2 separate regions of the Homo sapiens genome follow, and region 2 is linked to region 1. Evidence: fine-mapped expression QTL. Tissue or cell type: whole blood. Region 1 holds a variant in brackets; the other region holds the start of a gene. All regions are shown on one strand. Distances are between the middles of the regions. Region 1 overlaps TRIM22 (tripartite motif containing 22). Region 2 holds the start of OR56B1 (olfactory receptor family 56 subfamily B member 1).

Evidence for each region. PIP is the estimated chance that this variant, and not a neighbour inherited with it, causes the effect. A credible set is the group of variants that fine-mapping cannot tell apart.
Region 2: it holds the start of OR56B1, and the variant in region 1 is the best candidate, but not a certain one, in a credible set for the expression of OR56B1 in whole blood (TOPMed, PIP 0.70).

The regions. Positions count from the first base shown.
Region 1 is chr11:5,706,258-5,711,646 of GRCh38, forward strand. It overlaps TRIM22 (tripartite motif containing 22), which reads left to right. Exons shown (of 8, transcript NM_006074.5): 5 at 337-359; 6 at 1,916-2,016; 7 at 2,320-2,346; 8 at 2,796-4,606. The coding sequence ends at 3,391. Among named protein-coding and RNA genes, the nearest start is that of TRIM22, 19 kb to the left of the region's middle. The variant G/A (reference allele first, on the strand shown) is at 2,856.
Region 2 is chr11:5,733,636-5,739,024 of GRCh38, forward strand. OR56B1 (olfactory receptor family 56 subfamily B member 1) reads left to right here and starts at 2,813. Exons shown (of 1, transcript NM_001005180.3): 1 at 2,813-4,888. The coding sequence starts at 2,882. The coding sequence ends at 3,856. It also overlaps a transcript of OR52N4 not described here. RefSeq lists a silencer at 530-730.

The sequences.
Region 1 (5,389 bases):
TCTCCACACTTTGTCCCCAGTCTGTGACCATCTATTTATTCCCACCATATCCAGGGATAGTAAGAGTGTGGGGAGGAAGGTGGATAAAACTTTGTAAGATAGGAGGGCCTATTACTTTTTTGAGCATTGCTAGACAAAATACAGGATGCTCAGTTAAAGTTTAATTTCAGATAAAAGAAATGTAATATTTTTAGTATAAGAATATCTTAAATATTATAAGGGTCATATATATAACAAAAAATATATTGTTTATCCCAAATTCTAATTGAACTAGCCACTTTTATGTTCTAAATCTGGCAACCCTATCTTGACTCATGTTTTCTATCTTTTCCCCAGGATGTGATTGACGTCATGAAAAGGTATATGTGGAAGAGAGATGTGGTCTTATTTGTCTGAAAAGAGAATTATAGTCCTGAGAGATATCTTCCTTCAATCAGAACAACTTAAAAAATCAAAAGGCTGGGAAATTTGTGTATTAAATTGTCCCAAATTGCTAGTCACAGATTAAAGTTTTCAATTGTAAGAAATTTTGGTGTTGGGAGATCACAGAGTTAGGGTCGACGGAGGCCTTAGGAATAAGAGTTTGCAATATCAGAACCCCATGACTTCACTCACTTTATTCAAACCTCTGTCTCTGTTGTTTCCATATTGCATAGATGCCTGTCTTATTGCAGTGAGGCTCTGCCCTTTTTATATGCCAGACTCCAAATTTTTCAGAGACAGCGCCTTTATGTTTGTTTTCCTCCCTGAGAATAAAATAAACAATAACTTTCTAGGTGGTGCTTTTTAGATTTCTAGAAAAATAGATTCAAGTCTTGAGGAATAGTGGCTTTGGTCCTGGTGCTAGCATAACCTTTTCTTGCTCACATACTTTACCGTCTTGTAGGAAAAAATAATATTCTTGTGTCTAAAGTTGCCCACCTACTTGGCAACATCAAAGTTTTTTTAAACACATGAAAATCAGACCACTATTAATTAATTTAGTCATCGTAATTTGTCTTTCCCCAAATAACTTGAAACCTCAGACATTATTCTCTAGGTCTCATATTGGGATAACAGATTTTGGAAACCCTTTAGCTCTTCAATATAGGATCCTACTTTGATATCTCTCAACAACTCAGGAGACAGATTCTATGGCCTCCTTAATGACCACCTGTCTAGGAACCCACATCTCTGGCCTCTTCCTGGTGGACCCACTGAGATGGCAATGACTTTTCTAAATATTAAATAAGTTTTTTAGAGGCACTGAATATCTTTTAAAAGCATTATTGGCTGGGTGCAGTGGGTCACGCCTACAATGCTAGCACTTTGGGAAGCCGAGGCAGGCGGATCACTTGAGGTCAGAAGTTCAAAACCAGCCTGGCCAACATGGTGAAACCCTGTCTCTACTAAAAGTACAAAAAAATTAGCTGGATGTGGTAGCAGGCACCTGTAATCCCAGCTACTTGGGAGGCTGAGGCAGGAGAATGGCTTGAACCTGGGAGGCAGAGGTTGCAGTGAGCCGAGGTCGCGCCACTACACTCCAGCCTGGATAACAGAGTGAGACCCCATCTCAAAACAAACAAACAAACAAACAAACAAAAGCATTATTATTTTATCTAATTTTATATTCATTTTTAAGAGGTAGAAAGCATGGGGTTAATTATTGCATTTTAAAAGTAAGAAAGCGAACATCGTTGAAGTGAAGACCTTCCCAAGATTACACAGAGGGGAAGACCTTCCCAAGATTACACACAGACAGGTAGACATGAGCACATTTCTCTGGACTCCAGTGTCAGGCATCTCCCCTCTACTGTCCTCAGGGAAGAGGGTCCAAGTGCGTCAGCAAGTATGGTGAAAGGTGAAAGAGACAGTGATCTTGGATGGAGAGAAATAGGGCAAAGGTGTAAAGGTTATCAATTTTTGTTATCACTAGGAGTGAAAGCTGGACATTGAAGAAGCCAAAATCTGTTTCCAAGAAACTAAAGAGTGTATTCCGAGTACCAGATCTGAGTGGGATGCTGCAAGTTCTTAAAGGTAAGGGGATTCAGGGGAAGGCTGTGAATGTGGATTTCTTAGTATCAGGGCTCAATAGGGAAGCGGGAGGTTTTTTTAGGTTAGGATATAGGAGAGGAGGTGGGCCAGAGAAGGAGGAAAATCCTGTGCTGTAGATGTGGTCCTGTCTTAGGGGGAATGACCAGGTGTCTGATTCATCCTCTCATTCACCAGTGCAAAGAATCCCAGTATTCCCCCTTTCCTTTCCCTACTCTGGAGAAGAGACAGGTGTCAGTACTTACTTATTTGCTTCTAACAACATCACTGAAACTTTTGTCGTTTCAGAGCTGACAGATGTCCAGTACTACTGGGGTAAGATGATATGGGGTTTTCAAATCACTTCCTTTCAGAATTGTGGTTACTATTAGATCTCATAATCTGAGTCTCATGTGTTCCTCCCCAAACATGCTTAAACCATGTAGTTCTTTTTTTTTTTTTTTTTAAGATAGATTTTTGCTATTGTTGCCCAGGCTGGAGTGCAATGGCGCGGTCTCGGCTCACTGCAACCTCTGCCTCCTGGGTTCAAGCGATTCTGCTGCCTCAGCCTCCCAAGTAGCTGGGATTACAGGCGTGTGCCACCACGCTTGGCTAATTTTTATAGTCTTACACCCTGTATTTCTTAAGGGTCCTACTAACCTCTGACTATCAACACAAGTTCCGTTTGATATCGACACAAGTTTCATTTTCAATATGTCTCTTCTCAATGCTGTAAGACACACCTATCCCATATCCTTCACTTGACTTGGTAATTTTTTCTACAGTGGACGTGATGCTGAATCCAGGCAGTGCCACTTCGAATGTTGCTATTTCTGTGGATCAGA[G/A]ACAAGTGAAAACTGTACGCACCTGCACATTTAAGAATTCAAATCCATGTGATTTTTCTGCTTTTGGTGTCTTCGGCTGCCAATATTTCTCTTCGGGGAAATATTACTGGGAAGTAGATGTGTCTGGAAAGATTGCCTGGATCCTGGGCGTACACAGTAAAATAAGTAGTCTGAATAAAAGGAAGAGCTCTGGGTTTGCTTTTGATCCAAGTGTAAATTATTCAAAAGTTTACTCCAGATATAGACCTCAATATGGCTACTGGGTTATAGGATTACAGAATACATGTGAATATAATGCTTTTGAGGACTCCTCCTCTTCTGATCCCAAGGTTTTGACTCTCTTTATGGCTGTGCCTCCCTGTCGTATTGGGGTTTTCCTAGACTATGAGGCAGGCATTGTCTCATTTTTCAATGTCACAAACCACGGAGCACTCATCTACAAGTTCTCTGGATGTCGCTTTTCTCGACCTGCTTATCCGTATTTCAATCCTTGGAACTGCCTAGTCCCCATGACTGTGTGCCCACCGAGCTCCTGAGTGTTCTCATTCCTTTACCCACTTCTGCATAGTAGCCCTTGTGCTGAGACTCAGATTCTGCACCTGAGTTCATCTCTACTGAGACCATCTCTTCCTTTCTTTCCCCTTCTTTTACTTAGAATGTCTTTGTATTCATTTGCTAGGGCTTCCATAGCAAAGCATCATAGATTGCTGATTTAAACTGTAATTGTATTGCCGTACTGTGGGCTGGAAATCCCAAATCTAGATTCCAGCAGAGTTGGTTCTTTCTGAGGTCTGCAAGGAAGGGCTCTGTTCCATGCCTCTCTCCTTGGCTTGTAGAAGGCATCTTGTCCCTATGACTCTTCACATTGTCTTTATGTACATCTCTGTGCCCAAGTTTTCCCTTTTTATTAAGACACCAGTCATACTGGCTCAGGGCCCACCGCTAATGCCTTAATGAAATCATTTTAACATTATATTCTCTACAAAGACCTTATTTCCAAATAAGATAATATTTGGAGGTATTGGGAATAAAAACTCCAACATATAAATTTGAGGAAGGCACGATTTCACTCATAACAATCTTACCCTTTCTTGCAAGAGATGCTTGTACATTATTTTCCTAATACCTTGGTTTCACTAGTAGTAAACATTATTATTTTTTTTATATTTGCAAAGGAAACATATCTAATCCTTCCTATAGAAAGAACAGTATTGCTGTAATTCCTTTTCTTTTCTTCCTCATTTCCTCTGCCCCTTAAAAGATTGAAGAAAGAGAAACTTGTCAACTCATATCCACGTTATCTAGCAAAGTACATAAGAATCTATCACTAAGTAATGTATCCTTCAGAATGTGTTGGTTTACCAGTGACACCCCATATTCATCACAAAATTAAAGCAAGAAGTCCATAGTAATTTATTTGCTAATAGTGGATTTTTAATGCTCAGAGTTTCTGAGGTCAAATTTTATCTTTTCACTTACAAGCTCTATGATCTTAAATAATTTACTTAATGTATTTTGGTGTATTTTCCTCAAATTAATATTGGTGTTCAAGACTATATCTAATTCCTCTGATCACTTTGAGAAACAAACTTTTATTAAATGTAAGGCACTTTTCTATGAATTTTAAATATAAAAATAAATATTGTTCTGATTATTACTGAAAAGATGTCAGCCATTTCAATGTCTTGGGAAACAATTTTTTGTTTTTGTTCTGTTTTCTTTTTGCTTCAATAAAACAATAGCTGGCTCTACTGAAGTCTCATTCTTCAGTTTCCAAAATCTTGCTGCAGATAATATGAGTTTCCATATGTCCAGTAAAGAAGGTCATGTCTAGGCTCAGCTGTCCTTGATAAGAGACAGCCTTATGCTGTTCAGATCTGTTTCTCGTAATGAAACACTTGTGTGTACCATTGCATTTACCATCCTAGGTACTTTTCTTTTTTTTTTTTTTTAAGTCTTTTTTCAAACACAGGATGAGTAGTAGAACTACCTAGGATAGCAAAGACACAAAACATTCTTGAAGAAATATATTGTATTAGTCGGGGTTCTCCAGAGAAACAGAACAATAAGAGATATGTATTTATTATGAGGAATTGGCTTACTTGATTATGGAGGCTAAGACTTCCCATTATCTGCCATTTGGAAACCAGAGACCCAAAAGCTGGTGATATAAGTCAGTGTGTCTCTGAAGCCCTAAGAACCAGGGAGCTGATGGTATAAATGCCAGTACAAAGGCAGAAAAAGATGAGGTGACATGTCTCAGCTCAAGTACTGCGGCAGGAAAAGAAGCAAATATCTTCTTCCTCAACCCTTTCTCCTACTCAGATCCTTTATGGATTAGATGATGTCCAGCAACTTGGGGGAGGGCAAGCTTTGGAGAGGTAGCCATTACTGAGTCCAGCTATTCAGGTGCTAATCTTTTTCAGAAACACCCTTACAAATACAACCAGAAACACCCTTACAAATACAACCAGAAATACCCTTACAAATACCACCAGAAATAATGTTTAATCCGGGCAATCTATGACCAGTCA
Region 2 (5,389 bases), 27 kb after region 1:
CCCCCACCTCAACTAGACCACAATTTCAATGAGAACAGGAACGATGACTGTTCTATTGATCACTTTATGCCTAACATGTTTTTCAAACACAGACAGAACTAAATATGTATTTTTGAATGAAAGCTTTCTCCTTTAAAAATGTTTAAATAAATCTCCTAGCCACAGAATTTAGAACACCCAGAGTTTGTGTGCTTAAAAACCATTCAAACACTCTAAAATTTCTCACCTTTATAGGTCCATTTTGATTTAATAAATGAAGATATTCTTCTATTCATGTAAATTCTTAGGTTACATTAATAGGATACATGTTTTTGAGTTAATCTGCTTTCTATTCTAGTGGGATTTAACATCCTAGGAATTCAGCTTTCTCTATAGGTCTTTCATCATGTCTGCAAATGAGATCTATTATGCTTAGGTCACTGAGCTGCTTTACTACTCTCCATAAATTTCAGAAGTTTATAATTTCTGTGCCACATCTTAGCTGACAACACATTTTTATCTTGTGTTAAAGCATCTTTCTCATAAAGTTCTGTCTTTGCCCAGTAGAAAACTTCTGCCACGCCTAGGATCCCAGACTGTGAGTCTGTGTTCATAAGCAAGGTAAGTGATAAAATCTTCTCATGGTCACTTTGGCTAAATTCCAGAGAGTTCAATGGCTTATCCTAAACATTATGTTGTTTTGTCAACATTCTGCAAAAAGATTGACATTTCTCTCTGTTTTAGTAGCATATAGAGGATTAGAGGGCCTTTCCAAAAAAGGTTGAAGTCAGAATTAGAAAATATTAAGGCTCACATGGTGCACTAGAAGTTACCTTGTCTGTAATCAAAAAACAACACTGCCAGATTATCTTCAGGGTTAATATATTAACTGTTTTATATAGCAGAATCGTATTCTATGTCATGCTAGAATATAATTGTAAAAAAAATTAAAAACAATTCTTTTTCTGTGAGCTCAAACATACTACTTCTCTTAATTGTATCACACATATACAAATCAGAAAAAAATTTTAATAGAGAAAACATCAAAGATAAAATGTTATGTGATATTAGGATGTAAAGTAATAAATGAGTATTAAGTAAAAATGCCAGGCCTTGTACATCAAATGGGTTACATACTTCCACGCATCCAGGATAAAACTATTGTGTTGAACCCCTTCAGAATTCTCCTCTAAAAGCTCAAAGTCAAACTAGCTTTACCTCCATTATTGCTTGTGCTCTTTAGTCATTGAAATTTTCTGTAGATACATTTAGATAATTTTACTCTTTATCAAATTACATTCACCATTAAAGAAGGATGATTTACTCCATCATTTGGGAGTATATGTTTATTCAAACATACAGGCAGTAAGAAACCTCTGAAAGGAAATACATTTAGTTTTTAATAAGAATTGATACAACAAAAGAATTTTATTTTCTTCCAGATTTTTTTGGTATTTAACAATAATTATATCAAAAATCAACCCATAACTAATATATTAAAAATAACATTTTAACCTTTGAACATAGCTTTCCAGTTTTTGTTTCTTGCTCATAAACCTGCAATAGCTTCCACCATGGCAAAAATATTGGAAATAAAATGCCTTGAAAAATTACTAATTTTAGCATAGAGTAAGTATTATATGTATCTGCAGTGTAAAATACAAAGAAGTTCAAAGCAAGAGATTATATTCACTTCGGTTTGAGTCATATCTGAGAGTGTTTTATGCAAAATAAAGGATTGTAATAGTAAATAAATAATAAATGGTAAATAAATAAAGGATTGTAATAATAAAGTATTGTATTTGAAAGAAAATGTGAAACCATGAATTATTTTAAGCAAAGGAATACCAGTGTCTGAAAGATCAGATTGCTAGCAGAAAGAAAGAATTATGGAAAATCAGAAACATTTGCTCCAGGCAGGTTGCAGAAAGCATACTGAAAAAAAAGAGTGCATATGAATGAAGTAAAGAAAAGAAATCAACAATATGATAAGCAATTATTTGCAGTAAGGGAAGGTTAGTTTTCTAGATTCAAGCTTGTCTGGTCGAGCCACCATGCAGAATAAAAAGTAAATGGATAACAACAAAGTTGTAGAAAAGATAATGAGTCTAATTTTAACCATGATTTTTGAGCATTGAATGGCAATTCCTTCAACATTATGGACAAATAATTCTTGTTTGTTAAATAAGTTAAAATTACTGTTCAATGGTTAGAAGGTTTTAGTTGTACAAGATGAATAAGTTCTAGAGACCAGCTGTACAACATTGTGCCTGTATTCACTAAAAAATGAATAGAGTTGATCTAATATTGTGTTGTTATCACAGGAATCTTTAAAAGCTTCTTATTAGTTTTACCTAAATCCTGTATTTATGTCTTTATAGGTTCTCTAAGATTCAACTATAAAAAAACTTACTAAGGTATGTCTTCATTATATGACTTCTCATATGGAGAAATTCAGCCATAATCACTAACTTCCTTTTAAGCTACTCTTTTGCAACCTCCTCAGAAGTGCATACAAAATAGAACATGAAAGAAAACTATCCCCAAATCCTCAATATAATTTATTTCTGGAAACCTTTACAAGTCCATGATATCAAAATTTTGAAAGGCTATGTAAGACGTTAATGGACATCTATATCAACTTGAAATGATGTAGCTATAAATTTCATCTCCCATAATTCTTCATTTAAAAAATCTAGTTATTATTAGTTAATAAACCTCTGCATCAAGTCAAGTAACACTGAGATAAATATGAAGAAAACAAGCACATCCATTTAATCTATATAATTTCTAAAGAGATGAAGAAAGGCTTAGAAAAATACTACAATTTTATTTCTGTGGTGGTTCCAACCTGTGATAACTGAGAACAATACAAATAGAGATTTGAAATTCATGTTGAATCATGAATCATATGTCTGCATCTCTCAAAATCTCCAATAGCTCCAAATTCCAGGTCTCTGAGTTCATCCTGCTGGGATTCCCGGGCATTCACAGCTGGCAACACTGGCTATCTCTGCCCCTGGCACTACTGTATCTCTCAGCACTTGCTGCAAACACCCTCATCCTCATCATCATCTGGCAGAACCCTTCTTTACAGCAGCCCATGTATATTTTCCTTGGCATCCTCTGTATGGTAGACATGGGTCTGGCCACTACTATCATCCCTAAGATCCTGGCCATCTTCTGGTTTGATGCCAAGGTTATTAGCCTCCCTGAGTGCTTTGCTCAGATTTATGCCATTCACTTCTTTGTGGGCATGGAGTCTGGTATCCTACTCTGCATGGCTTTTGATAGATATGTGGCTATTTGTCACCCTCTTCGCTATCCATCAATTGTCACCAGTTCCTTAATCTTAAAAGCTACCCTGTTCATGGTGCTGAGAAATGGCTTATTTGTCACTCCAGTGCCTGTGCTTGCAGCACAGCGTGATTATTGCTCCAAGAATGAAATTGAACACTGCCTGTGCTCTAACCTTGGGGTCACAAGCCTGGCTTGTGATGACAGGAGGCCAAACAGCATTTGCCAGTTGGTTCTGGCATGGCTTGGAATGGGGAGTGATCTAAGTCTTATTATACTGTCATATATTTTGATTCTGTACTCTGTACTTAGACTGAACTCAGCTGAAGCTGCAGCCAAGGCCCTGAGCACTTGTAGTTCACATCTCACCCTCATCCTTTTCTTTTACACTATTGTTGTAGTGATTTCAGTGACTCATCTGACAGAGATGAAGGCTACTTTGATTCCAGTTCTACTTAATGTGTTGCACAACATCATCCCCCCTTCCCTCAACCCTACAGTTTATGCACTTCAGACCAAAGAACTTAGGGCAGCCTTCCAAAAGGTGCTGTTTGCCCTTACAAAAGAAATAAGATCTTAGAGACCTTCTCCATGATGTACATGAACCTCAGCTTCTCCTAAACTGGATAGTAAAATTTCAAAGAGGATAAATGAGTAAGTGAATACCTTTGGGATTCCCTTTTTATATTTGTATGTAAATAATTGTGAAAGCTTCAGAAAAGATACAAAAAATCACAGTAGCCTAAAATATTGACAAAAGCTAAATATTTAAATATATTTGAGAATATGGAAGAAATTTCTGCCAAATCAAATTGGATTTAAAGAACTTAATGATTGATATCTATCTCTTAAAATAAAAATGAATATAATCACACACCCACAAATACACACACAGACACACATACATTCAATCAGACAAATGAGTGATTGGGACATGAATCACAGGTCATGCTTGCGCATTGTTAGCTGTAACTTGGGAGCTGTAACTTGGGAGCAAAGTCAGTCTGCCTAAACAAGCATTACTCCAGTAATATGAAATACAGAGGTCGGAAAAGAAAATAATTCAGATAAAGCCAAATCAGTCAATGATGAGGATTTATGTGGAATATGAGATGACTCAGCTTGGACAGACAGAACCCAAAAGATTCATCTAGCTAGAAGGATCTGGTGCTTACGCCGTTTGCCTCCCCAGATTTGCTGTCTGCCCTTTGTGCACTGCTCTGTAAACTGGAGGGCTGACTTTCACATATTGTAAGCCCAAACTCCTTTGTCTTTCGGTGTTCAGTTGAATTGAGCCAATGTGATGCGTGACAGATTATAGTTCAAGAGGAGACAGCATTTGGGCTATTTATTATTCTACTCCCAGCCTGCTTTGACATGAGGGTTTTCACTGGATATGTCCCTTCTCTGGCCACCCACCTGCTACAGCTACAGCTTTTATGGAAATATAGTAACAGGCTTGTCTTGCCTTCTTTCTTCAGGCCAAGGGGCTGATAAAGGCTTCCTGATAGTAGTCTCTGAGTGCCCAGCATCCATTATTTTTTAATATCCACTTGTTTTCTTAAACAACCTACTACTCAATACCAACTTCATTAAATTGTCTTCAAACTCACATTTCTTTGTGCCTTTTTTTTTTCCCTTTCTGAGACCCTGACTGACTCACTGGCTTTATTTATATCACCAGCATCTATCTCTACCATAGCTACTCATCCACTACTACTACCACACCCACATAAGAATGTAGGCAGCTTCAGCAAAATCTTCAGATGATCAGATATAAAGACACTGCAGGCAGGAGGTCGATATAGAAATTTTTCCCTGTGAAATTTTTACTTTGAGAGTTTTCTTTTCTTTCTTTTTTTTTTAAATAGTCCTAAACAATGAATGGGCAAAATAAGGCTTAATCTATTATTGTCTTGTATTTCAATCTTTTCCAGGCTACTTTCCATTAAACACATGCTCAGATTAATGCCATTAAATAGCTAGGACATTCCTTGAAATATGAGTATTAATTTTGGGTGCAGGAATACCAGTTGCTAGAAAGTCTGTTATACATTATATAATGTCAACTCCTCTTCCAGTTAGATTTCAAAAGTAAACCCTATCAGTTTTC